Linked DNA regions of Homo sapiens: region 2 is linked to region 1. The links come from fine-mapping of genetic effects on plasma protein levels. A gene starts in region 1. The other region holds a variant in brackets. All regions are shown on one strand. Distances are from middle to middle. Region 1 holds the start of NME3 (NME/NM23 nucleoside diphosphate kinase 3). Region 2 holds the start of MAPK8IP3-AS1 (MAPK8IP3 antisense RNA 1).

What was found. PIP is the posterior inclusion probability: the model's chance that the variant is causal. The UK Biobank Pharma Proteomics Project read protein levels with antibody pairs (Olink). The fine-mapping took linkage between variants from a reference panel, not from the people measured, so its PIPs are less certain.
Region 2: its variant is fine-mapped to the plasma level of the NME3 protein (UK Biobank, PIP above 0.99).

What each region holds. Positions count from the first base shown.
Region 1 is chr16:1,764,426-1,772,453 of GRCh38, reverse strand. It overlaps NME3 (NME/NM23 nucleoside diphosphate kinase 3), which reads left to right and starts at 911. Exons shown (of 5, transcript NM_002513.3): 1 at 911-965; 2 at 1,044-1,174; 3 at 1,283-1,384; 4 at 1,461-1,573; 5 at 1,688-2,134. The coding sequence starts at 920. The coding sequence ends at 1,805. MAPK8IP3 (mitogen-activated protein kinase 8 interacting protein 3) reads right to left here. Exons shown (of 32, transcript NM_001318852.2): 19 at 7,995-8,028; 20 at 7,276-7,441; 21 at 6,312-6,494; 22 at 6,045-6,234; 23 at 5,806-5,925; 24 at 5,651-5,731; 25 at 5,483-5,550; 26 at 5,157-5,305; 27 at 4,719-4,890; 28 at 4,536-4,649; 29 at 4,347-4,385; 30 at 4,076-4,255; 31 at 3,828-3,977; 32 at 2,103-3,751. The coding sequence ends at 3,630. It overlaps MRPS34 (mitochondrial ribosomal protein S34), which reads left to right. Exons shown (of 3, transcript NM_023936.2): 3 at 1-559. The coding sequence ends at 233. RefSeq lists enhancers at 186-275, 3,786-3,835, 7,613-8,028 and silencers at 576-1,165, 1,476-1,675.
Region 2 is chr16:1,706,230-1,722,233 of GRCh38, reverse strand. It overlaps MAPK8IP3 (mitogen-activated protein kinase 8 interacting protein 3), which reads right to left. Exons shown (of 32, transcript NM_001318852.2): 1 at 15,577-16,004. The coding sequence starts at 15,894. It overlaps MAPK8IP3-AS1 (MAPK8IP3 antisense RNA 1), which reads left to right and starts at 8,043. Exons shown (of 2, transcript NR_184234.1): 1 at 8,043-8,232; 2 at 8,447-8,705. RefSeq lists enhancers at 1,989-2,108, 3,349-3,518, 8,247-8,296, 15,844-16,004 and silencers at 15,496-15,545, 15,566-15,675, 15,946-16,004. The variant C/T (reference allele first, on the strand shown) is at 4,159.

The sequences.
Region 1 (8,028 bases):
TGCCCAAGCACGAGGAGGAGGCCTTCACCGCGTTCACGCCGGCGCCGGAAGACAGCCTGGCCTCCGTGCCGTACCCGCCTCTCCTCCGGGCCATGATTATCGCAGAACGACAGAAAAATGGAGACACAAGCACCGAGGAGCCCATGCTGAATGTGCAGAGGATACGCATGGAACCCTGGGATTACCCTGCAAAACAGGAAGACAAAGGAAGGGCCAAGGGCACCCCCGTCTAGAATGCCAGAACCAGCGGGTGGCCTTAGGGGCTGTGAGGCAGTGGGGACCTTATTGATGAAAGAAACCGTCTTTGCGTTACACCCGAGTCTGCCTCTCGGAGCAGGGAGCTCACCTTCCGCGACGTGTTCTGAGGGTCTGCATCTTAGGGGGGAGGGCTGGGGCAAATCGCCACCTGTGCCTTTCCTCTGGCCCTGCTGCCCCCACACCCAACTCCGAGGGCCCACGCTGGGGAAAGCGGGAAGCGCTCGCTCCCTTTCCCCCATTAGTGCTCTCTCTGCCTGGATCCCGGCAGAAGCTATGAAAGGGAATAAAGAGAAAAGAAGTACCCAGGGTCGTGGTGTCTTTGCGCTCTGTCTTTAGGACCGGGGAGAGAAGGGCTGACGCTGTGGTCGTGGCCCTGGCCGGGGGGGCGCGGGGGGGGCGGGGTTCGGGCGGTGCGGAGCAGGGCGCCGCGTGGGTGGAACCACCTGGGCGGGTTGTGGGGGATACAGTTAGTGTCCGAGCTGCTGGAGGAGACTTGGCCTCCGCAGCTGCCCTCCGGCCCCCCACGGCTGCCGGGTTCCGGGGTGCAAGTGAAGCAGCCTCCCCGCGGAGGCCGCAGCGCCCCGACCAGGCCTCTTTAAGCGCAGGCCCCGCCCCGGGCGCCACCGCCCCGCCCCGCGGATCCCGCTCCCGCACCGCCATCATGATCTGCCTGGTGCTGACCATCTTCGCTAACCTCTTCCCCGCGGGTGAGCCGCGCGGCGCGGGCCGGGGGCGGGTGGCCGGTGCTGGGCCGGCCTGACGGCCCGTCCCCGCCTGCCCCGCAGCCTGCACCGGCGCACACGAACGCACCTTCCTGGCCGTGAAGCCGGACGGCGTGCAGCGGCGGCTGGTGGGCGAGATTGTGCGGCGCTTCGAGAGGAAGGGCTTCAAGTTGGTGGCGCTGAAGCTGGTGCAGGTGGGGGCGCGGTGAGCGAGCGGGGGCGCGGTGTGGGGGGAAGGGGAGCGGGGACCTGGGGACGCCTAGGTGCCGGGTGCGGGCGCAGGCGGCCTGACCCTTCCGCAGGCCTCCGAGGAGCTGCTGCGTGAGCACTACGCCGAGCTGCGTGAACGCCCGTTCTACGGCCGCCTTGTCAAGTATATGGCCTCCGGGCCGGTGGTGGCCATGGTGAGTATCCGGGAAGCGGGCGGGCGGCTCCGGGACCCCCACCCCCGCGTGATACCGCGCCCGTTCCTCCGCACAGGTATGGCAGGGGCTGGACGTGGTGCGCACCTCGCGGGCGCTCATCGGAGCCACGAACCCGGCCGACGCCCCGCCCGGCACCATCCGCGGGGATTTCTGCATCGAGGTTGGCAAGTAAGGCCCGCCCCGGGGACGGTCCCAGCCCCGTCCGGCCTCCCCCTGTTCAGCCTGCGTGGTACCCGTGCCGGAGGTCTCTTTCCCACGCTCACACGCGCCTCTTCCGCGCAGGAACCTGATTCACGGCAGCGACTCGGTGGAGAGTGCCCGCCGCGAGATCGCTCTCTGGTTCCGCGCAGACGAGCTCCTCTGCTGGGAGGACAGCGCTGGGCACTGGCTGTATGAGTAGCCCGGCAGATGCGCGTCACAGAGGCTCTCACACTCCAGCCTCCTCCAGGGCCCAGGTGGGCGGGCTTCTGGCCCCACCCCACAGCGCTTGGAGCATCCCTTTGGACGGGCTGCTGAACATCCACCTGTCTGGACGTTGCATGGAGGGTGGCGCAGGCCTCTCCAATCCCTGGCGTACAGGGTTTCCTGCCCGAGGAGCTGCTCCAGGAGCCTGCGCGGCTCGCCTGGAAACGTGCCAGGACACTGTCCTGGTGCCCAGCCCAACGTGGTCCAACGTTTTTTTATAATAAAGTCCTCGTTTTCGTTTCGATTTGGGCCCAGGAACAGGCAGCTACGACGTTAAGACATTTATTACATACAGAGCAGATATGTGGGTTTGCTTGCAGGGCCAAAGCCTGAGGAGAATCGTCACCCCTCCCCCAGCCGCCCCACTGCTCAGCCCGGAGTCACTTCGAGATCCTGGGGGAACAGACGAGGGAGCGGACATACATCACAGTGGAGGTGGCAGGGTGGTGGGGAGAAGCCGGCAGCGCAGCGGCTGCAGCCCTCGGTGGCCAGCGGGGCTTGTGGGGCAGCTCCCCAAGATCTGTGCTTCTCTGGTTGGGGGTGGGTGCGGGGGCTGGGCTGCCCTCATAAGGGCCTCCCAGACAGGAGTGCAGTGGGCCTGGAAGGTAGGAATAGGCCAGAGAGGCCCAGCTGGGCAGGGAGAGCAGTCCAGGGTGGCGTCTGCCCTCTGCGGGCTTGGAGTCGGCTGGGGGCGGCTCCATCCTCAGCCCCACGGGCCTCTGCTTGGTGGCCTCTCTGTTGCTCCCTGGAAGCAGGCCACAGCGGGCAACCCTAGGCACTTAGTAGCGTGTCTGGGAGCTGGGCTCCGTGGAGCCCCGTGCAGGAGGCAGGCCCCGGGAGCACATCATCCCCCATCAACCTGAGGCTGAGCCTGTGTCCTAGGACTGATCCCGGAGAGGCCAGGGGCCTCCCCTTCTTCCTGAGGCCTGGGCCTGCCCTGGCAGCCTGAGAAATCCCACCCTGGGGGCTTCTGGGAGGGACAGGACTCCAGGGCCCACTCCTCCAAGGTGAGTCTTCTGCCCAGGCAGAGCCTGGGGGGACACGGGTCAGAACGGGGCTGGCAAGAGCCTGCCTGCATGGGCAGGATGGGGTAGCAGTCTCTGTTCTCAAGCAGCTGCCCCAGGGAGCCGGGCCTCGTGCTTTTATGCCAGCTCCCTGGGCAGGGGACAGCTGGGGTGGGGACAGACAGGATAGAGGCTTGACGACGGGGAGGCCCCAGAGAAGGCCGGCTGGGGTGCAGGCACCTGGGCAGCCTGAGGCCCACCTCCCTGGGCAAAGGCTAGTGCCTGGCCCAGCTCCCCTAGGCAGAGTGAGGGCCCAGGAGGCAGGGTGGCCCCATGAGCAGCATGCAGAGGTGGGCCCAGGGCAGGCAGCCTCGGCGGCGGGGAGCCCCTGCCTCCTCCAGGGGTGCTGGGGAGTAGGAGGCCCAGGGTAGAGCCAGGACCACCTCGGATTCTGCCTGCGCTGGGCCCAAGGTGCCCTGGACTTGAGGACTCTGGGCTGGAAGCTGGCCAGGAGCTGCCCGGGAAACTGTCCCGAGAGCATCTTCCCCTCGGGTGGAAGTTCCCCTCCCCTCCTCCTCCCAGCTGATCCGCATCCCCGCACTCCCTGCCCGCTGGAGGGGCCAGACTCAGGTGAAAGCTGCAGGTTGAGAGGTTAGAAGAGGGGCGGCGGCGCCTGGCTGGCTACCCCGCGGGCCGGGCGGGGGTCAGGTGGTCGGGGGTCCTATGTACAGGTCGGGCCAGGCAGGGCAGCAGCTTCACTCGGGGGTGTAGGACACCTGCCACACGATGATGTGACTGCGCTCTGCCTTGGACAGCACGGGCTTCACCTGGCTCATGTCCCCTGCGCCCTCCTCCGTCTCGTCGTCCTCTCCGTCTCCTGCGGGCAAAGCAGCAGAGTGACGGCCAGGCTCCCCCCGCGCCCAACCTCAGCCCTGTCCCTGGGCCCCGCTCACCAATGCGGAAGTCGATGTAGCCCTCCCCGCCGCTCAGCACCAGCACGTTCCGCAGCTTCTGGCCCTCGACCTCCGAGGCAGGGGCAGCTGGCCCAGGGCCCTCGGCTGGGCTGTCCAGCACACTCCCATTCAGGGTGGCCAGCACGTTCCCTGGGATGGCAGAAGCGATTCAGGACAGCGGCCTCCTGGGGGAGGCGGCGGCCACTGGCATGCAGGGGATGTGGATGGCAGGAGGGGCCCAGCCTCACCTGGCACCGAGACAAAGAACTTCACGGCATCGCGGTGCCCATGGAAGCATAGCTGGGCCTGGGCCATGGAGCAGTAGGGGATGAAGCTGCTGGCCGCCCTGTCACTGCTGTCATCGCCATACACGTGGATGATGCCCCCGGGACGGGCGCCCTCCCCAGAGGTGGGGGATGTCTTATTGGCTGCAGGGAGAGAACCCAGAGGCGCTGAGCCCGCATACAGGTGGAGAGTGGGAGAGGCTCCCGTGAGGGGACACGAGGTGGCTGGGCTTACCTCGGAGCCCCAGGAGCTGGCCTCGGTGCAGGACCACAGCTGGGGACATGGGAGGAGCATGGGAGAAGAGGAGAGCGGTCAGCGTAGGGGCAGCAAGGCACCCTCCAAGGTGGCCCTGCAGAGCCACCCCGTGAACCCACGTACACCTCTGGCAGCACCACTGCCCCTGCAGGTGTGCAGGCCACTCACTCTCTGTCAGGGGGATGGAGATGACCACTCCGTTGCCGGTGCCCACCCAGAGCCGGCTGCCCGCGACAAGCAGGGCCGTGATGCGTACGAAGGAGAAACCCAGCTTGCCAGTGCCTGTGGGGGAGAGCGGTCAGGGTGGCTGGCCTTGAGCACCCCACCACCCCATCTGGCGTGGCCCCTCACCTAGCATCTTGCTGACGTAGGGCTCAATGTCCACGTCCTGTAGATGCTGGTGCGTGTGTGCATGGTAGAGCCTCAGGGTGGAGTCCAGGCGGATGGACACCCATACGCCATCGCCGATCCACGCCAGCTGCCGCACCTGGCTCTCCCGCCGCGGGTGGGCGTCAAATGACTTCTGTGGAGTCATGGCTGCCCATCAACAGGGCTGGGGAGAGGAGAGGAAGTGGGGAGCCCCAAACCTGCCACAGCTCCAGGGCCACCTGCAGTCCCCTCAGACCTCCCAGCCAGCGCCTGCTTTGCGCCTGTTCGAGCCTGAGTCATAGGTGGTACAGGGGAGATGGGACCCACGTAGGGCCTCGTGGACTTCCGTATGGAAGATGCGGGAGAGCTGCTGGCCAGCAGGAGCCTCTTCCCCTCCCCGGGGCCCTGGCCGGCACTCGCCTCTATCTGCATGGTCTTGGGCTGGATGACGTGCACCTTGTTCTTGTAGCCACACCACACGCGGTCGTACACAACAGCCATGCAGCGGATGGAGTGGTGCGGGTGGCCCAGGTCCATTAGGTGATAGTTGCTCAGATCCCACTGGCCATCTGGAGGGAGCCCCGGACACCTGCTCAGGCCTGGCCAGGCCCCACCTCTGCTCAGGGCATCGGGTTGAGACACCCACTGCCAGACTAAGGAGAGGCCTGGAACCCCGGGAGCCCCTTGGCTAAACAATGCCAGGGCCATCAGCTGCCACCCACACACCCCGTGCTGCCAGGCCCCACCTTCACCACGGTGGAAGATGGCCAGGGTCCCGTCCGCCAGAGCCACCAGCACACGGCCTTTGACATGCCTGAAACAGGAATGCGGTGAGCCTGGTTTGGGCCAGGCTGTGCCAGCCCCCTCCGCCCCGTTCCCCCGCGCCGCCCGGCCCTCGGTCTGGGGTCACCCACACCAGGCTCAGCACAGAATCCTTCAGCTTGATGGAGTGCAGGCACTTCTTCCAGTTGGCCACAGCCGAGTGCACATAGAGCCTAGGGAAGGAAGCGGCGATGGGCGAGGGGCTCACCCAGGACCCTCCCTCCACCTTGCCCCGGGCCCTTCCTACCAGCCGTTCTGGGCTCCCAGCCACATGGTGGGTGCAGCACTGCTGCCTGCTCCCGTGGGGTCCCCGCTGGGCTCTGGCTCTGGCCGTGTGCTGCTGCTGTCAGGCTCTGGCCCGTTCTCGCTGCAGGAAGAACGGTGGCTCCAGGGGGGGCCACGGAGCACGCACCTGCCCCAAGACCCCGAGGCCCTTCCCACCTCTGCAAGCCTTCCCTCTGCTCCTGCCCCAGCCCAAGAGCTCACCTGCCAGGCTGGGGGCCAGAGGACGGGGTCGGGGCTGGGTCAGTGAAGACGTGCTCTGTGAGAGGCCCGGGCCGCAATGTGGCTGTCTCTGGCTCGCTGGGCCCAGGGTCTGGCACCTCCGTGGCCTCTGTGGCCTCCTCTGTGGACTGGGACGGGTTGACCTTCCCGTTGGCGATGGTGGCCACCTCCCCTGTGTTAGGAGAGGTGAGCTTGGGCTGGGCAGAAACGTGGGAATGAGGGGATGGGGGAAACTCGCCCAGGACTCACCCTGCCCCTTGTCTAGCACTGGGGTGTCCCCTCGGGAGGAGCAGTTGCTCCGCGGCACGTTGCAGCGGGTGGCACAGCCCACCAGGGTGATACCGGCCAGCACGCCATCTGCGCCCGGGTCCTCTGGGTTCACGTCGCTGTCCAGGAACATCTCCCCGGGAGGGTAGTCGCTGTCGCTGGCCGCTGGGGAGAGGGACGGCCCGTCAGCCTGTGCGGGGGAACCCACTACTGCAAGGGCGTGCCCAGCACTTACACAGGGGCAGAGGAAGCCGGGGCTGGCCTTCCACTTTCCCAGCAGACCCAGCTTCCACACATGCTCCACCCACAGCCCACCCACGACCCTCTGCCTGGAGGTCTGGGACTCCAGCAAGCCTGCTCTGTTGGGTAGGCCCCTGGGCCAAGGGGAGCTGAGTAGTAAGACTCTGGTTCTGGGAGCAAACAACCTGTGATCCTGTGGCAGACCCTCAGGACCCCAGACGGCCCTGTGGTTTCACACCAGAGACCTGGCAGAGCCCTCGGCACCCCTTCGTCCTCCCAGTGTTGGGGCTGGCCCAGAACATCACCAAGGCTACTGCCCACAGGGGTGACACGAAGCTCCTCACCCACACCCCCATAGCCCCTTCGGCCCAACTGGAGGTTTCACATTCAGCATGAGGAAATGTTTTCCTGTGGTCTCCGAGTGATGCTTCAAGCTGCAGGCCGTGCCCACCCGTCACCCTCTAACCAGGTAAGCGTGGGGTCCTGAGTAGGTAGGGAGAAGAGGCCGAGGCTGCCGCGAGCTTCCTCCCAGAAACAGGGCCCAGGGCCTCACTTGACTGGGTGCTGCCCCTCCCACCGTCCACTGCCACATTCCCGTGTCCACAGGACACCCCGAGAAGGCAGCTGCTGTGTGGCAGGGCTTTTACTTAGCTTGCTAGTAAAAGGGAGTGGCGCCCGAGTGGAAACGCCCACTCCAGCTGCTCACCGGGGATGCTGGAGATGCACAGCACGTGCGCGTTGCAGACGGTGAACTGGTCCACCACCGTGCCCGGCTGGTTGGCGTCGATGATCACCACCTTGCTGGTGGTCAGGGTGCTGGTCAGGATCCACACCCGGCTGGAGGTGGCGTCCATTTCAGGGAGCTCCTTGGCCTGTTTCAGGGCACGGGATCAAGGTCAGAGCCCGAGCTTGAGGCTACCCGGTGGCAGCACAGGGCCATGGGGCTCCCAGAATCTGTCAGGATCCAGCCTTGACTACAGCTTGAGGGGACATGGCTGTCCTCCCCCAGGACCAGAACAATGCGGACTCAGGACTGCACTCTAAAGCACTCACAGACACGGTTTCGCCTCCACAGAAGAGGCCCCTGAGCTCCAAGAGGCCCAAGCTGGGCATAAAACTAAGCCTCCCACCACTGGGAGGCAAGCTCTGCCGCTCCTGGGCTCCTCTGTGCCTGCTGCCTGCCTGACCCCTGCAGCCCAGTGCAGGCCCACTCCAGGCCACCTGGGGGGTGAAAACTGAAAACCCAGAAGGCGGCTCAGTCCTGGTGAGGGAAGACACTGCTTCCCGCAGTCTAGGAGCCCCTGCGCTGCCCTGCTTCCGGGTGCTGTCCCCAGCTGTCCTGTGTCTCACTCCCAGCATGCTCTGCAGCTGAGCTGTCCTGAGACTAAGCCAGGGAGGGTGCCCGGTGGCCTCGGCCATGCTCACCTTCTTCTTCTCGGGAGACGTGTGGGCGCTCTTG
Region 2 (16,004 bases), 54 kb after region 1:
AAAGGAAGAAAAACAAACACTCCACAGCTGAGAAAATGCATGACTTTTTTGTGCGGCGGTACAAAAAATAAAAATAAGTGATTTTGAATTAACTGTGGCTAACTAGCATATGAAGAACACACACATGCTATTAATCGACTGATAAGAATTTTTAACAAAAAGTTGTCTGGGTGCGGTGGCTCACGCCTGTAATCCCAGCACTCTGGGAGGCCGAGGCGGGGGGGATGACGAGGTCAGGAGATGGAGACCTTCCTGGCTAACATGGTGAAACCCCGTTTCTACTAAAAATAAAAAAAATTAGCTGGGCGTGGTGGCGGGCGCCTGTAGTCCCAGCTACTCGGGAGGGCGAGGCAGGAGAATCACTTGAACCCGGGAGGCGGAGGTTGCAGGGAGCTGAGATCACGCCACTGCACTCCAGCCTGGGCGACAGAGCAAGACTCAGTCTCCAAAAACAAAACAAAACAAAACAAAACGAAAAAACAAAGTTTTTATAGGCCCGGAGCGGTGGCTCATGCCTGTAATCCCAGTACTTTGGGAGGCCGAGGCGAGTGGATTGATTGACTCCAGGAGTTAGATGCAACATGGTGAAATTCCGTCTCTACAAAAAAATTAGCTGGACACGATGGCATGTGCCTGTAGTTCCAGTGAGCTGGGAGGCTGTGGTGGGAGGATCACCTGAGCCCAGGAGGTCGGTGCTGCAGTGACCCCAGGAGGTCGGGGCTGCAGTGAGCCCTGAGGCTGGCACCACTGCACTCCCAGATGACAGTGAGATCCTCTCTCTAAAAAAAAAGGTTTTGTAGAGATAGGATCTCACTATATTGCCCAGGCTGGTCTCAAACTCCTGGGCTCAAGCAATCCTCCTGCCTTGGCCTTCCAAAGTGCTGGGATTACAGGCATGAGCAAAGGATTTTTTTTTTTTTTTTTTTGAGATAGAGTGCAATGGCACGATCTCAGCTCACCGCAACCTCCGCCTCCCGGGTTCAAGTGATTCTCCTGCCTCAGCCTCCCGAGTAGTTGGGATTACAGGCATGCGCCACCACATCCAGCTAATGTATTTTTAGTAGAGATGGTGTTTTCCATGTTGGTCACGCTGGTCTCAAACTCTTGACCTTAGGTGATCCACCCGCCTCGGCCTTCCCAAGTGCTGGGATTACAGGCATGAGCCCCCATGCCCAGCCTTGTTTTGTTTTTTTTTTTTTTGAGACAAAGTTTTGCTCTTGTTGCCTAGGTTGGAGTGCAATGACATGACTCAGCTCACTGCAACCTCCGCCCCCTGGGTGCAAGCAATTCTCCTGCCTCAGCCTCCCAAGTAGCTGGGATTACAGGCACCCACCACCACGCCCAGCTAATTCTTTGTATTTTTAGTAGAAACGGGGTTTCACCGTGTTAGCCAGGATGGTCTTGATCCCCTGACCTCGTGATCCGCCTGCTTCTGCCTCCCAAAGTGCTGGGATTACAGGCGTGAGCCGCTGCACCCGGCCTGGCCTGGATATTTTTTAAAGTAGGTAAGTTTATTTCCTGTTATATAAAAAATGAAAATAATTATATAAACAATGTATGTTTCTGCAGGAAAATCAGTGTTAGGTAAAAACAGAAAAAATTTTAAATTATGAGTCTCGGTCTATAGGGTCGGTTAAAATTGTGTGACGTGCTTCTGGATTTGTATGTGTGTGTGTAGAGCAGATGTACGATCATCTTGTACACAGTGTTTTGTAACCTGATTTATTCACTGATTTATACTGAAATGCCTTTCAACACCAACAGGCGTACTCGACCACTTCCATTTTTGGCAGGTGTGTGTTCTGCTGGGAGTGTGTGTGTAGAGCACAGTTTGCTCAATCCATTATCTCTTTATGGACTTTCAGGTTGCTTTAAAATGTTTGCTACTATAAAAAGCTGGCCGGGCACGGTGGCTCATGCCTGTAATCCCAGCACTTTGGGAGGCCAAGGCGGGTGGATCACCTGAGGTCAGGAGTTCAAGACCAGCCTGGCCAACACGGTGAAACCCCATCTCTACTAAAAACACAAAAAATCAGCTGGGCGTGGTGGCGTGCGCCTGTAATCCCAGCTACTCAGGAGGCTGAGGCAGGAGAATTGCTTGAACCCAGGTTGCAGTGAGCCAAGATTGCGCCATTGCACTCCAGCCTGGGCAACAAGAGCGAGATTCCATCTCAAAAGAAAAACAAACAAACAAAAGCTGTGTGCACACACGTCTTTGTATATTCACCTGCTGGCTTCCTGCTCTCTGAGGCTGCGGTCATGCACTGCTAAGTGACTCTTCAGAGGGTGTCCCAACTTACACTTCCCCCTAAAAAGTGGGACAGTGCCCTTTTGTAGAACTCTCAACATTTCTTTCTTTTATACTTTTTGGTTTGTTTTTGAGGCTTTTTTTCTTTTACTTTTATTTTTCAATTTTTTGGGGACAGGGTCTCCCTCTGTCACCCACTGCAGCCTTGACCTCGCGGGCTCAAGCGATCCTCCCATCTCAGTCTCCTGAGTAGCTGGGCCCACAGGCACGTGCCACCACATTGGGCTAATTTTTGTGGTTTTTTTTTTTTTTTTTTTGTAGAGATGGGGTCTCCCTATGTTACCCAGGCTGATCTCAAACTCCTGGGCTCAAGCGATCCCCCCTCAGCCTCCCAGAGTATTGGGATTACAGGCATGAGCCACTGTGCCTGGCTACATTTTAGTCTGTTTCTGAGCCAGCACCACAGGTTTTTAAACTGGTGTTGTGGTGTTATGGTACTTTCTAGTATCTAATATCTGCTCTCCCTCTTACATCTTCCTTTTCAACATTTTCCTGGTTATTCCTAATTTCTCCTTCTAGATTGATTTGAGAATCATTTTGAATCACCGACATACATATTTATTTTTTGGTTATGCATTTCACCTGTCTGAAAGCACCAGGTCTCTGTCCCTTAGGAAGGGGCCATTTTTTTTTTTTCTTTTTAAAGATTGGGTCTCAGGCTGGGCACAGTGGCTCACAGCTGTAATCCCAGCACTTTGGGTTGCTGAGGCAGGAGTGTCACTTGAGGCCAAGAGTTCGAGCCCAGCCTGGGCAATATAACAAGACCTTACCTCTACAAAAAATAATTAGCTGGGCACAGTGTTGCATGCCCATAGTCCCAGCTACTTGGGAGGCTGAGGCAGGAAGATTGCTTGAGACGGGGTCTTGCTCTGTTATCCAGACTGGAGTACAGCAGCATGACCAAGGCTCACTACAGCCTTGACCTACCTACTGGGCTCAAGCAATCCTCCTGCCACAGCCTCCTGAACCACAGGCACTACAGGCGTGAGCCACCTCGCCCAGCCCCTAATGTTGAGTCGTTTTCAGTGAGAAGATGCTAGGGCTAGACTTGGGGTGAGAGAAAACTCATCTTGAGGAAGTGAAGAGTCCTCTGATGGGGCTTCTGGGGGTGGATGCTGGAACATTCTTTTTTTTTTTTTTGAGATGGTTCTGTTGCCCAGGCTGGTGTGCAGTGGTGCGATCTTGGCTCACTGCAACCTCCATCTCCCAGGTTCAAGCGATTCTCCTGCCTCGGCCTCTGACTAGCTGGGATTACAGGTGCCCACCACCATGCCCGGCTAATTTTTGTATTCTTAGTAGAGACAGGGTTTCACCATGTTGGCCAGGCTGCTCTTGAACTCCTGACCTCAAGGAATCTGCCTGCCTTGGGTTCCCAAAGTGCTGGTATTACAGGCGAGAGCCACCGTACCCGGCCTAGAAAATATTTTTATTTAAAGATCATTAGCCGGGCGCGGTGACTCATGCCTGTAATCCCAGCACTTTAGGAGGCCGAGGTGGGGGGATCACCTGAGGTCAGGAGTTCCAGAGCAGCCTGGCCAACTTGGTGAAACCCCGTCTCTACTAAAAATACAAAATTAGCCAGGCATGGTGATGCATGCCTGTAATCCCAGCTACTCAGGAGGCTGAGGCAGGAGAATCTCTTGAACACGGGAGGCAGAGGTTGCAGTGAGCCGAGGCCATGACATTGCACTCCAGCCCGAGTGACAAGAGTGAAACTCTGCTTCAAAAAAAAAAAAATCATTTACTTCTGATTTAAGAGAACCAAGAATTTTCAGCCGGGCTTGGTGGCTCACACCTGTAATCCCAGCACTTTGGGAGTCCGAGGCGGGCGAACCTTGAGGTCAGGAGAT[C/T]GAGACCATCCTGGCTAACAAGGTGAAACCCCATCTCTACTAAAAATACAAAAAAGATTAGCCGGGTGTGGTGGCGGGCGCCTGTAGTCCCAGCTACTCAGGAGGCTGAGGCAGGAGAATGGCAGGAACCTGGGAGGCGGAGCTTGCAGTGAGCTGAGATCGTGCCACTGCACTCCAGCCTGGGCGATAGAGCGAGACTCCATCTCAAAAAAAAAAAGAGAACCAAGAATTTTCAGTGGTGGGGACTTGGGGAATAGAGATGAATTTAAGTCTATAAAGCACGATTACAAAATATAAACGGAGCTGAGAAAAATAAAGTTTTAACTATCAGCATTTTTTTTGAATGGGCCTGCATAGTACTAGATTATAAAAAAATAAAAGAACTACCCAGAATACAGCACGGTAGTATCTTGGTCCCAGAGACCTACTGAAGGTGTGACAATAGCAAAGTGAAAGGTTTCTGTACACGTGCTCGTGATCCATGCTGCAGGGCAGCGTGTATTTGACACGACCACCTATCTAACCGAGTCTAGTGAAATGCTGTGTGGCATCTGGACATGAGAGGCCACCTATGGGTCACCTTTGAGCATCCCAAGGAGCAATGACTTGAGATTACAAAATGAAGGAAAACATGGGTGTCGTTCCTCAGTCGAGACACGAAACAACTCTCACATCTAGGTACCAATATGCCACAGGATTCCCTTTTTAGACATGTTTTTAAGATGTACTTCCCCATCCCTCCCACGACCAAAGGGCTCTGCTTGAAAATTAAATTCAACTTATGTTTTCAGAATTTGCTTTTTGGTGAATTTCTTTCTTTCTTTTTTTTTTTTTTTTTTTGAGATGGAGTTTTACTCCGTCACCCAGGCTGGAATGCAGTGGCACGATCTTGGCTCACTGCAACCTCCGCCTCCTGGGTTCAAGTGATTCTCTTGCCTCAGCCTCCCAGTCTCCTGAGTAGCTAGGATTATAGGCACCCACCACCACACCTGGCTAATTTTTATTTTATTTTTTTTTGAGACGGCATCTCGCTCTGTTGCCCAGGCTGGAGTGCAGTAGCACAATCTCAGCTTACTGCAACCTCTGCCTCCCAGGTTCAACTGTTTCTCCTGCCTCAGCATCCTGAGTAGATGGGATCACAGGCGCCCACCACCACACGCGGCTAATTTTTTTTATTTTTAGTAAAGATGGGACTTCACTGTGTTAGCCAGGATGGTCTCGATCTCCTTGACCTCGTGATCCGCCTGCCTCAGCCTCCCAAAGTGTTGGGATTACAGGCGTGAACCACTGCGCCTGGTCATACCTGGCTAATTTTTGTATTTTTGGTAGATACGGGGTTTCGCCATGTTGGCCAGGCTGGTCTCAAACTCCTAACCTCAGGTCATCCACCCACCTCAGCCTCCCAAAGTGCTGGGATTAGAGCCGTGAGCCACCATGCCCAGCATTTTCGGTGAATTTCAAGATACATATTGAAATAACCTGGCTGGGCACAGTGGCTTACTCCTGTAATCCCAGCATTTTGGGAGGCCGAGGTGGGAGGATCACGAGGTCAGGAGTTTGAGACCAGCCTGACCAACGTGTGAAACCCCATCTCTACTAAAAATACCAAAATTAGCCAGGCGTGGTGGTGCGTACCTGTAATCCCAGCTACTCAGGAGGCTGAGGCAGGAGAATCTCTTGAACTCAGGAGGCAGAGGTTGCAGTGAGCCGAGATCGCGCCACTGCATGACAGAGGGAGACTCTGTCTCAAAAAAAAAAAAAAAAAGAAATGACCTGAGAGCATAGGGTCTTCGAAAATCTAGTAATCCAAGCCAGTTTTTTCAGTATTCCATAGAATGATATCATCCTTCCTTTTATATGTAAACAAAGTTAACGCAGTGACTGACTTTTAATGTCCAATATAAAATCAAGATGACAGTATTCTGGACTCAGAATGTCAGAGCAATGGCCAGGAAAGTTCTTTCACAGGGCGATCAACAGGCTTTTGGTAACTTTCACAACCCATGGACACTTTCCTGCTGAGTAAAGTAATACATTAAATCCAAACCTCGGCCGGTGCAGTGGCTCCCGCCTGAAATCCCAGCACTTTGGGAGGCTGAGGTGGGCAGATCACGTGAGGTCAGGAGTTCAAGACCAGCCTAGCGAACATGGTGAAACCCCATCTCTACTAAAAATACAAAAAATCAGCTGGGTGTGGTGGTGGGCGCCTGTGATCCCAGGTACTCAGGAGGCTGAGGCAGAATCGCTTGAACCCGGGAGGCAGAGCTTGCAGTGAGTAGAGATCACGCCATTGCACTCCAGCCTAGGCGACAGAGTGAGACTCCATCTCAAAAAAAAAAAAAATCCAAACCTCTCCTCTCATACGTTTGTTAGGCCAGGCTCACCAGCGAGAAACAATTCAGCTCTGGCTGGTTGGTTAGAAACGAATCTTGACACGAATCAAAGATCTCGTTCTTGTGCAATACCGATCAATTTATTTCCTTCCCTGGGAATGAGGGTGTAGTATGAATTTCCAAAGGAAAAACGCTCATTTTTGGTCTTTTATCTTAAGCAGGCAGACAGGTGCCGGGCACGTGCCTGGCAGATGCCCTTCATGGCTAGTTCCCAGGTACGGGCAGGGACCTCGCATGGCTGTGGTTACCCTGGGCTGGCAGGGGGCAGTCAGAGCTCTTTCCATTTCCCACAATTGCCTGGCCACCTAGGTCTAAAATGCAGAGAGAGGACGTGCAGGGGGTGGCTCTGGAGTTACAAAGCTGCCCCTGAAGCCTGCTGGACGGGACACGGGTCGAGGGAAGGACATTTCTCCATTCAGGTATTACGTGTGGGGCTGAGAGAGCTGGCCACTAGCTCGGGACTCCAAAAACCAGGTTGAAAAGCAAGGCTTCCTCACGTTCTGTGAAAGGGATGGCTGGGTTCAGTGTCCACGTAAAACAAATCCCAACTGGTTGAATACGAACTGATTTCAAGAATGGGTAAGACAGATGGGAAATAGATATATATATATTTCCCATCTGTCTTACTAGTACATATACATTTGTATTGGGAAATATATATATAAATTTATATGGTTGGTACCAGCGGAAGAAAAATGAAGATAAAACCAAAACCTCAAGTTAAGTGTCCCATCCTATGAAACATCTCCCTGGGAAAAATTATTCTCAAGTAAACTTTTATTCTCTGGTGCATTCTTAGGAGTTTACATTGGCTTCTGAAACTTCCTAATCAGCCCCAACCTCCGACTCCCTCTGGTTCCACTGAACGAGAGGCCTGCTAACCGTGCCTCAGTTCACTCTTCTCAGTAGCCAAAGGGTCCCTGCTCTCAAAACATGAATGCTCTAACCCGAGGCAGGGACATAGAGACACACGTGTGCAAGGGCCCACTGGGACTGTGCGTATATCTGGGAATTCATTTCCTGGGGAGAAGGAAAGGTGATGGGCAGGCTGGCTGAGGAAAGGTTAGGGAACAGGAGCCCCAAACTCCCCAGAGGCCTGGGGAGGAAGGGGCCCCCCGAAACTTTAACAAAAGGCAAGTTTTGAATCTGGTTGTTGATAACAAGAATTGAAATGTCCTAGACCCTGTGTGAGAAACGCACCACACGGAGGAGAGGTCTTGAGGAAAGGCCCTGTCGCGTTTCACGTGGCACGCCCTGGATCTCTTGCCGTAACAGTGGCTCAAAAGAAAATGCACCAGAGTAATGATGCTGTGGGCTCTAAGGGTCTCCGCAAAGACGCACCCCCCTCATAAGCGGATTCTAGTCTCTGGGTTTCACTGCCAGCCTGCCCCAGAGCAGTGCTTGGCCCAACACCCTGCCAACGGGGTGAGCGGGCTTACAAACCGCTCATGCGTGAAGGTTACGTAAAAACAAGCCGCCCAGCTCCCCTGCAGGCAGGCGGATGGACAAACGGCACTGCTGGGACCCTGCTTGGCCATGGGGGAAGGACACACACAGCCTGGGTGAGTCCCCGAATCACTGTACCGAGTGGAAGATGTCAGAGGAAACCACGTACGCACTGCAGGAGGCCATTATGCAAAGCTCTAGAAGATGCAAATTAACCTACAGTGACTGAAGGCAGGTCAGTGGTTACCTGGGGACAGGTGGGGCAAGGAGGGGTCGGAGGGGGATTACATAGGACACAGGGAACTCTGGGGTCCGGGCGTCTACGCTGCTTGGACTGCAGGGATGGCTTCTGGTGTTTATACGTATTTCAAAACTCATCAAATTGTACTCTTTAAGTATGTACAGTTCAGTGTATGTCAATGATACTGCAATAAAATTGTTACCCACAGAAAGAAAACAAAAAGCAGCCCAAGGCGAAAAAGTCGATCCTGTGCCCTGAGCACAGGCAGTCCTGAGGTGCGAGCGGTTTCCCACCAGGCTCTTCTTGGCCTTTCGAGAACTTCAGCCCCTCTCTGCTGTTTCCTGTTGCTGGCATCCACTTTCCCATCTCACAATATTTTCTCCTGTCTGGTCTCCTGTATCTGAAACCCACTGCTACGGGATCTCCCCTCTTTCTGGAAAATGTTCATTAAACAGGAAACAAACCCACCCTTTAAGCATCTTCCTTTCTTGCATGAAGCTGAGTAACTCACCATCTGCCCTTGCTTCCAGGCAGCTCAGCTAGACTGCCCACAGCCACACTGTCCAGTATGGAAGCCCTGGCCACATGTTTACATTAATTAAAATAAAACACAGCCGGGCATGGTGGCACGAGCCTGTAGTCCCAGCTATTCGGGAGGCTGAGATGGGAGGATTGCTTCGGTCCAGAAGTTTGAGACCAGCCTGGGCAACGTGGCGAGACCTCATCTCCGAAACAAGTAAATACAACTAAAAATCCAGTTCCTCAGTTCCATGAGTCATGCCTAAAATGCTCAACGGCCCTATGTGGCCAGCAGCTACTGAAGTGGACAGCACCAAATACAACATTTCCATCATCCCAGAACGTTCTGTCAGAAAGGCTGCTCCAAAGAGACAGTCCTTGACCTTCCGGAACTGCACAGTTTGGTGAGATGTGTGCAGAGACAGAGGAAAGCCGGCTTCCCTTTATCCACACACACAGATGGCCAGCATCTCCGGGTGTGCCGAGAAAAGGAAACAACAGGCTCAGGCTGAATGAACCAAAGGGTGCCGGCCCCTTGTTGGCAGGGAGCAGCTTAACTTGCGGAAGCCGGGAGAGAGGCCTGGTGGGGGCCCAGCTCCCCAGGCAGGGGCGGCAGAGTGGGTGATGGGGGCTTCTCTGCAGGTGCACTGCGGAGGCAGACACCAGCGAATCCGGCAGAGACGGGAACTAGCCAGATAAACCCCGAGGGAGGGGTGGGGGCAGGTGGTCTAGGAGGCAGGAACTGCAGGTCTGCAGAATGGGGGGCAGCCAGAAGACCAGAGGCAGATGAGGCTGGTGAGAGGTGGGCCCAGTGGGGGGCCACCTGGGGAAGACAGCCTCACTCTGTCCACCCAGTGTCCTGGCCCACCTTGTCACTCAGATCCCCTCATGTTATCACCACCTGAGATGTCCAGTCTGCCCCAGGAGAGCAATCAGCTAATCCCCCTGCCTGGAATTCACCCTAGCACTCAGAGACCAGATATGCTTTGTGAGGGTTCTCTGGGCTGGCAAAGTGGCGGCGGTGGGAGTGGCCGGGAGACCCTGGGATGGTGGTGACTGGAAGCAGAAGGCAGCAAAGGAGATGAAAAGTGGGGACATTAAAGAACTCCTGAGGCTGGCCGGGCGCGATGGCTCATGCCTGTAATCCCAGCACTTTGGGAGGCCGAGATGGGTGGATCACGAGGTCAGCAGATCGAGACCATCCTGGCTAACACGGTGAAACCCCATCTCTACTAAAAATACAAAAAATTAGCCGGGCGTGTTGGCGGGCACCTGTAGTCTCAGCTACTCGGGAGGCTGAGGCAGAAGAATGGCATAAACCTGGGAGGTGGAGCTTGCAGTGAGCCGAGATTGCGCCACTGTACTCCAGCATGGGTGACAGAGCGAGACTCCATCTCAAAAAAGAAAAAAAAAAAAAAAAAAAAAGAACTCCTGAGGCCAAAAGAACACCAGGACCTAGTGGCGGCTAGATACTTGGGGTGACAAGGGGAGCTCGGGACCTCAGTTTTCTTTTTTTTTCTTTTTTTTTTTTTTTGAGACGGAGTCTCCCTCAATTGCCCAGGCTGGAGTGCAGTAGCGTTGCAATCTCGGCTCACTGCAAGCTCTACCTCCTGTGTTCAAGCGATTCTCCTGCTTCAGCCTTCCAAGTAGCTGGGAGTACAGGTGTGCATCACCATGCCCAGCTAATTTTTGTATTTTTAGTAGAGACGGGGTTTCACCATATTGGCCAGGCTGGTCTCGAACTCCTTACCTCATGATCCACCCGCCTCGGCCTTTCAAAGTGTTGGGATTACGGGCGTGAGCCACTGCGCCCAGCGTTGGGACCCCAACTTTCAACAGGGCAAAGGAAAACAAGTCCGGAGAGCCGGCACCCCATGCAGCTCCTGGGCAAGCTTCTGTAGTGATTTTCATGCACTAACAGCTCATCCTCCAGCCCTGGTAATAAATGGGAACCTGGGAAAGGGGCCCATCCAAAAATCTTGTGCCCCTCACCTGATGCCCATCTGGCACAGATTAAGGATCTAGGAGGCTCTGCATGCCATGGGTCTTCCTGCTGAGGCCTGAGGACATGCTCCATATCTGGTCCCCAGGGCCCATGAGCCAGACTGAGGCACAGCTGCAAAGTGACTGAACTGTGTTGTCGCAATGGTCAAGGTCAATAAGAGCAGAGAACGAGGGGCCACCGCAGAACACAGGACACAACAAGGACACAGGGACCCCTGAGCCCCTTACACAGCCAGAGAAAGCAGCGTGGGAAGACGCCTGCACTTGGGAAGCTGGGTGAGGAGTGTTAATTCTGCAACCTTTCTGTACATATTTCAAAATGGTTTTTAAAAACGTAAAAATGAAACAGATATTTCATTTAGAAATCTTAATTTTGGAAGAACTGACTTCTCTCAGCTCTCGGCCCTGTCTGACTGCTGCCAGCGTGGCCCGGGGGCTCCCGCAGCGGAGCGGCAGAGGGGCAGGCTGCGCCCAGCGGCCTCCGGGCCACTTCGGCCTCTGTCCCGTGTTCTCTCTGGCTGGCAGGTACCTCCTTCTCCATGGTTCCTACATGTATTTGCTCCACTTTTTAGGGAGACTGCTGTACTCCTGGTGAGTGGTACAGCTACACCAGGCCAGCTTTCAGAGGCACCTAGGAAAGGCAGCTCTGGCAGCCCCATCTTGATAGCTTCATTTAAAAAACATTTTTTAAAAAACTGTTCTTAATATCATAACATGGCAGGAAAAGAAATCGCATACTCTGGCCAAGCAGTGGTGGATTTACTATTTGTCATATGAAAAACAAAAATAAAAATTTCTGATTCAGCATCTTAATTCATTGATGGAAAAGACTTCCTGCAGATCGTCTGGCGCAGAGGAGAAAAAAAGAAGGAAAAATGGCAGACTGATCATCTCTGTAGAGCGGGATTATGGTGTTTGTTTTCTCCAGCTGAATCCTACCCAAATAGTCTATGAAATGGATGACATTTATTTATTTATTTTTATCTATTTATTTATTTTGAGACAGAGTCTCACTCTTGTTGCCCAGGCTGGAGTGCAGTGGTATGATCTTGGTTCACCACAACATCTGCCTCCTGGGTTCAAGTGATTCTCCTGCCTCAGCCTCCCGAGTGCTGGGACTACAGGGGCCTGCCGCCACACCTGGCTAATTTTTTTTTCTTTTTTTTTTCTTTAGTAGAGACAGGGTTTCGCCAGGTTCGCCAGGCTGGTCTCAAACTCCTGACCTGAGATGAGGAGGTCAGGAGTTCAATGTCAAATGTTGGGAGGCTGAGGTGGGAGGATTGCTTGAGTCCAGGAGTTTGAGACCAGCCTGGGCAACATAGCGTGACCTCATCTCTCGCCTGCCTCAGCCTCCCAAAGTGCTGGGATTACACATGTGAGAGTCGCTGCGCCTGGCCGGTAACTTTTATTTAACTCGGAAAAAATAAGTTTTGGATAAAACTGTCTTCCCTTGCATCCTTTCCTTACATAGCATCAAATGCCGAATGATCAGCAAACATCACCATCTGGGCTTGTTGAGAGAACACCCACTCCAGCTGCCTGCCATGAGCCTGGGGGGTGTTACCAGCAGCAGTTTCTTTAGGGTTAAGAAGATTTTAAGGCAAATAATGACCACTAATATTCACATGTCATCTCTCACACCTTATTTTTCCTCTTGTAAGCTAAGCAGTTGATCACTATGGGAGAAGGGCTCTTTGCTGCCCGGGTAAGCCCGGCAAACGTGGTGGCTCTGCCCGGCCCTCCTCTGGAGCTGCACCGGACGGTGCGTGTGGAGGCAGCATCTGCTCCTTGCCAGCCCCCACCCCGTTCAGCTGCTGTTTCCCACCTTCTTCTTTTCCACTGGGAAATAACTTGAGGGTTTTAAAAAACTTTGTATCAGAGCCTGCACAACCAGAAACTGCACTGTCTGGTAGGCGGCTAGCAATGTCCGGTGCCTGCCGTCCACGGCGGCCCTGAGAACCCGTCAAGGGTTCTGCCCTGACTCTGCTACATCTGCCTGCCCACAATTCTCCAGGCAACCAACAGCCAGTGATGGTGCTTGGATCTTGAGATGAAACTGACTTGCAAAGTCCGCGGCCACTGCAGCCCAGCGAGGGGAAGAGGATGGACCCAGGGTGTGTGGCTCCTGAGGGCCGGGCTGACACTCAGGCTGGGGTCTGCAGACTCCACGGCTTGGGTCAGTCTCTCGGGAGACCCCACCCTCTCTAGCTCCTGTCACTCTCATACACTCAGCTGCCTGTTATCAGAGCACATTGGGAGTCACTGTGGTAATGACCGGCAAGAAGATGGGAACAGGGATGTCTGCTCTGCTCAGGTTTTTATAAAACCCTGCGGATTCTGTCTGCTCAGAAGCTGCAGTGGCTCAGGTTACCCATCTCTGACTAAGCCTTCTTGAGCAGAGTGGCTGGGGACGGAGCTTCTGCTGACAGCTCACCCAGGAGCTCCTCTGCAACAAGACACGCCTGCAGCGTGTGACGTCCCGCTCCCCTCTTATCAGACACACGTCTATGTGATCACAAGTCCCTGCCTAGAAAAGACGCCGACCCACAGGGCACAATGGTCTACAAAGTTGGAAATGAAGGTCTGCTTGATTCAGTAGAGGAGTAGGCATGCCAAATGTTGACAGCATCGAGCCCTCTTCCTTAGTTGTAAAGCCCTGAGGTCTTTCCAAGGGCGCCCCGTTAGCGTTTAATCATAGCCTCCATGCTGGCCAAGCATTGGCTGGCTTCGGGGCTCGGCTCCCGAAGCTCTCGGTGCAGCTTCTCTAAAGCGCTGGGGCAATGGTGGGTCTCAGACTAAAGGTGATAGCTTTGCAAACCACACGCACACCCGCCAGCTTGGTTCAGCAGGAGCCCTGGGGGAGGGCAGATGCACTCACAGCAGCTTGCATGTGAACCGCACAGAGCTGGGCAGCGCCTATCCTGTGCACAGCTCATTTTTAAGCGGCAAGGTTATAATTCCTAGCCTTAACGTTGTCCATCTTGATTTTCTCCTTTCAGTTCCTTCTCGTCCACTATACTGACCACACAGGTACAAGGTGAAAAAAAGAAACCCACCTGAAATCCAGGTCAGGCCACTGAGTGTGGGAGAGCAGTGGAGGGCGGTGCCCAGCACAGGGGGCAGCCACAGCTCCACAGCTGAGCGAGGGCAGCCCTGGCACTCCAGGCTTCTGGGGAGCAGCCCTCCGGTGCCTGCAGCTGCCTGACATGGAAGCAAGTGCCCAGGCCGGTGTCGGGTTCACTCTGCATCCTGGCTGGGCACTTCTGGGGTGGGTGACCTTGGTTCAGCCCCTCCACTTCTCAGGACAAGTTTCCTTCCCAGTAAAATGCCTATAGTCACCCTGAGCTCCAAAATCCATGAACCTTTGCGTTCCCTTAGGTTGAGAGCTTTAACTCAGCTTTGCTGGAACCGGGGCATTCCAATCAATGCATAACCACCTCGCGACAGACACGAAGCCCAAACGCAATAGAAACCACAGGAAAGGAGGAATGATACAACATACTGTTATGATTTTTATAAACACGCTTTAAACCAAACTAGGCCATAAATCACCTTGGTTTCAGAAAAAGCCAAAATACTGACACAATCTTTTATTTTCCTATTAAAGTCAAGAATGTGTTAAGCCGAATTAATTGAAAAGGAATTGAAGCTCATTTCCTAAGACACTTCTATTCATAAGTCAAACAGCATTACCTAACTCCTAGAATGAGAGAATTTCTGGGCTTGGAGATCGCCTAGTGCAATTCACTCCTTTGATGGAAAATCGAACCCCAGGCAGGCGACAGGCCAAGGTCACAGAGGCAAAGCAGGGATGGGAACCAGCCTCCCTGAACCTGTTTCTGACAAAGGGCGAGGTTCTGGGCCCACACACAGGCAGGCCGAGCTCAGTATCTGACGGTGAATGAATGAAGCTAAGTGGTGCTCCCCACAGGGCCCGGCTCTTGTAACTGCTTCACAGACAAGCGATTTCCAGGTTATGGAGACATCCTAGCACAGAATTAAACGCTTCAAACTCAGACTGTTAACTCCTCAGAAGCCAGAGTGGAGTTTCTCAGCCCTGGCTACATCAGCTAACAATCTCGCCAAGCAAGGAACCAAGGGGGCAAAGACATCACCTCCAGAAACTCGAGTGTTCCTTCTGCTGACAGAGGAGCAGCCCGCCTGCGGCCTTGTTCTGTGTTTACATCAACCACCCAATTCACCCGTGTCACAGACCTTCAAAATACGGGATTAGGGACAAGGGAAAGGTCTCCAACATCATCCACAGACGGCTGCAGCCCCCTAAGAACACCAAAAGATTCCTTTTCTAGATGGGTTTAGAATGGCAGCCAACAGAGGTAGCACTTGGGGTCGGGAAACGGTTTTGACTGAACACACGCACGAAAGCAAAGGCAATTGTCATGCAGAGGTGGGTGGGGAGGGGAGAGTGAGGCCTGGCTTTGAAGCTGAGCTCCCCGGGGATGACGCCAGGCACATCGGGTTTGGGGCTGAAGATTCAGGGCTGGGGGCACGGAGGAGGGGGCCAGGGCCCAGGCCTGGGCGGAAAAGGGGGTCCCCGGGAGTCGGGGTGGGGTCCCGGGGCAGGCGGGGGAGTGCTCTAGGGAGGTGTCTCACGGCGGGCAGAGGGGGTGGGGAAGTCCCGGGGCGGGGGATATGGGGTCCAGGCGGGTCTCGGGGCGGGGTCTGGGGGTCCAGGGGTCCCGCGGTCCGGGGTGCCGGAGCGGGGTCTGGGGTCGGGACGGGTGTTGGGTCCGGGGCCCGGGGCTGGCTGGGGGTCCGGGACGGGGATGCGGGCGGGTCCCGCGGCCCACGCACCTCCTCCGCCTGCCTGCGCAGCGCCTTCTCACGCTCGTACTGGGTGAGCAGCTGCTCGTTGTCCTCGCGCAGCAGCTCCAGCTCCACCTCGTGCTCCTGGTTCTCGCTGAGCACCGAGTCTAGGTTCTCCAGCACGTTCACCACCAGCGGCATGAGCTCCTTGACCACCTCCTCGTCGTAGCAGTGGATGAGGCGCTCGAACTCGCGGTAGATGGAGCCCGCCAGGCCCGACACCCGCTCCGACATCACCGAGCCGGAGCAGTAGTCGTCCTGGTACACCACCACGCCGCCGCCCTCGTCCATCTGGATCTCCATCATCGCGGCCACCGCCGCCGCCAGCGCGGCTCGCTATCCGGCCGGCGCGCCCGGCCCTCCCCAGCTGCCTCAGGTTCCGCAGGCCGCAGCCCGTCGCCTCCCGCAGCTGCTGT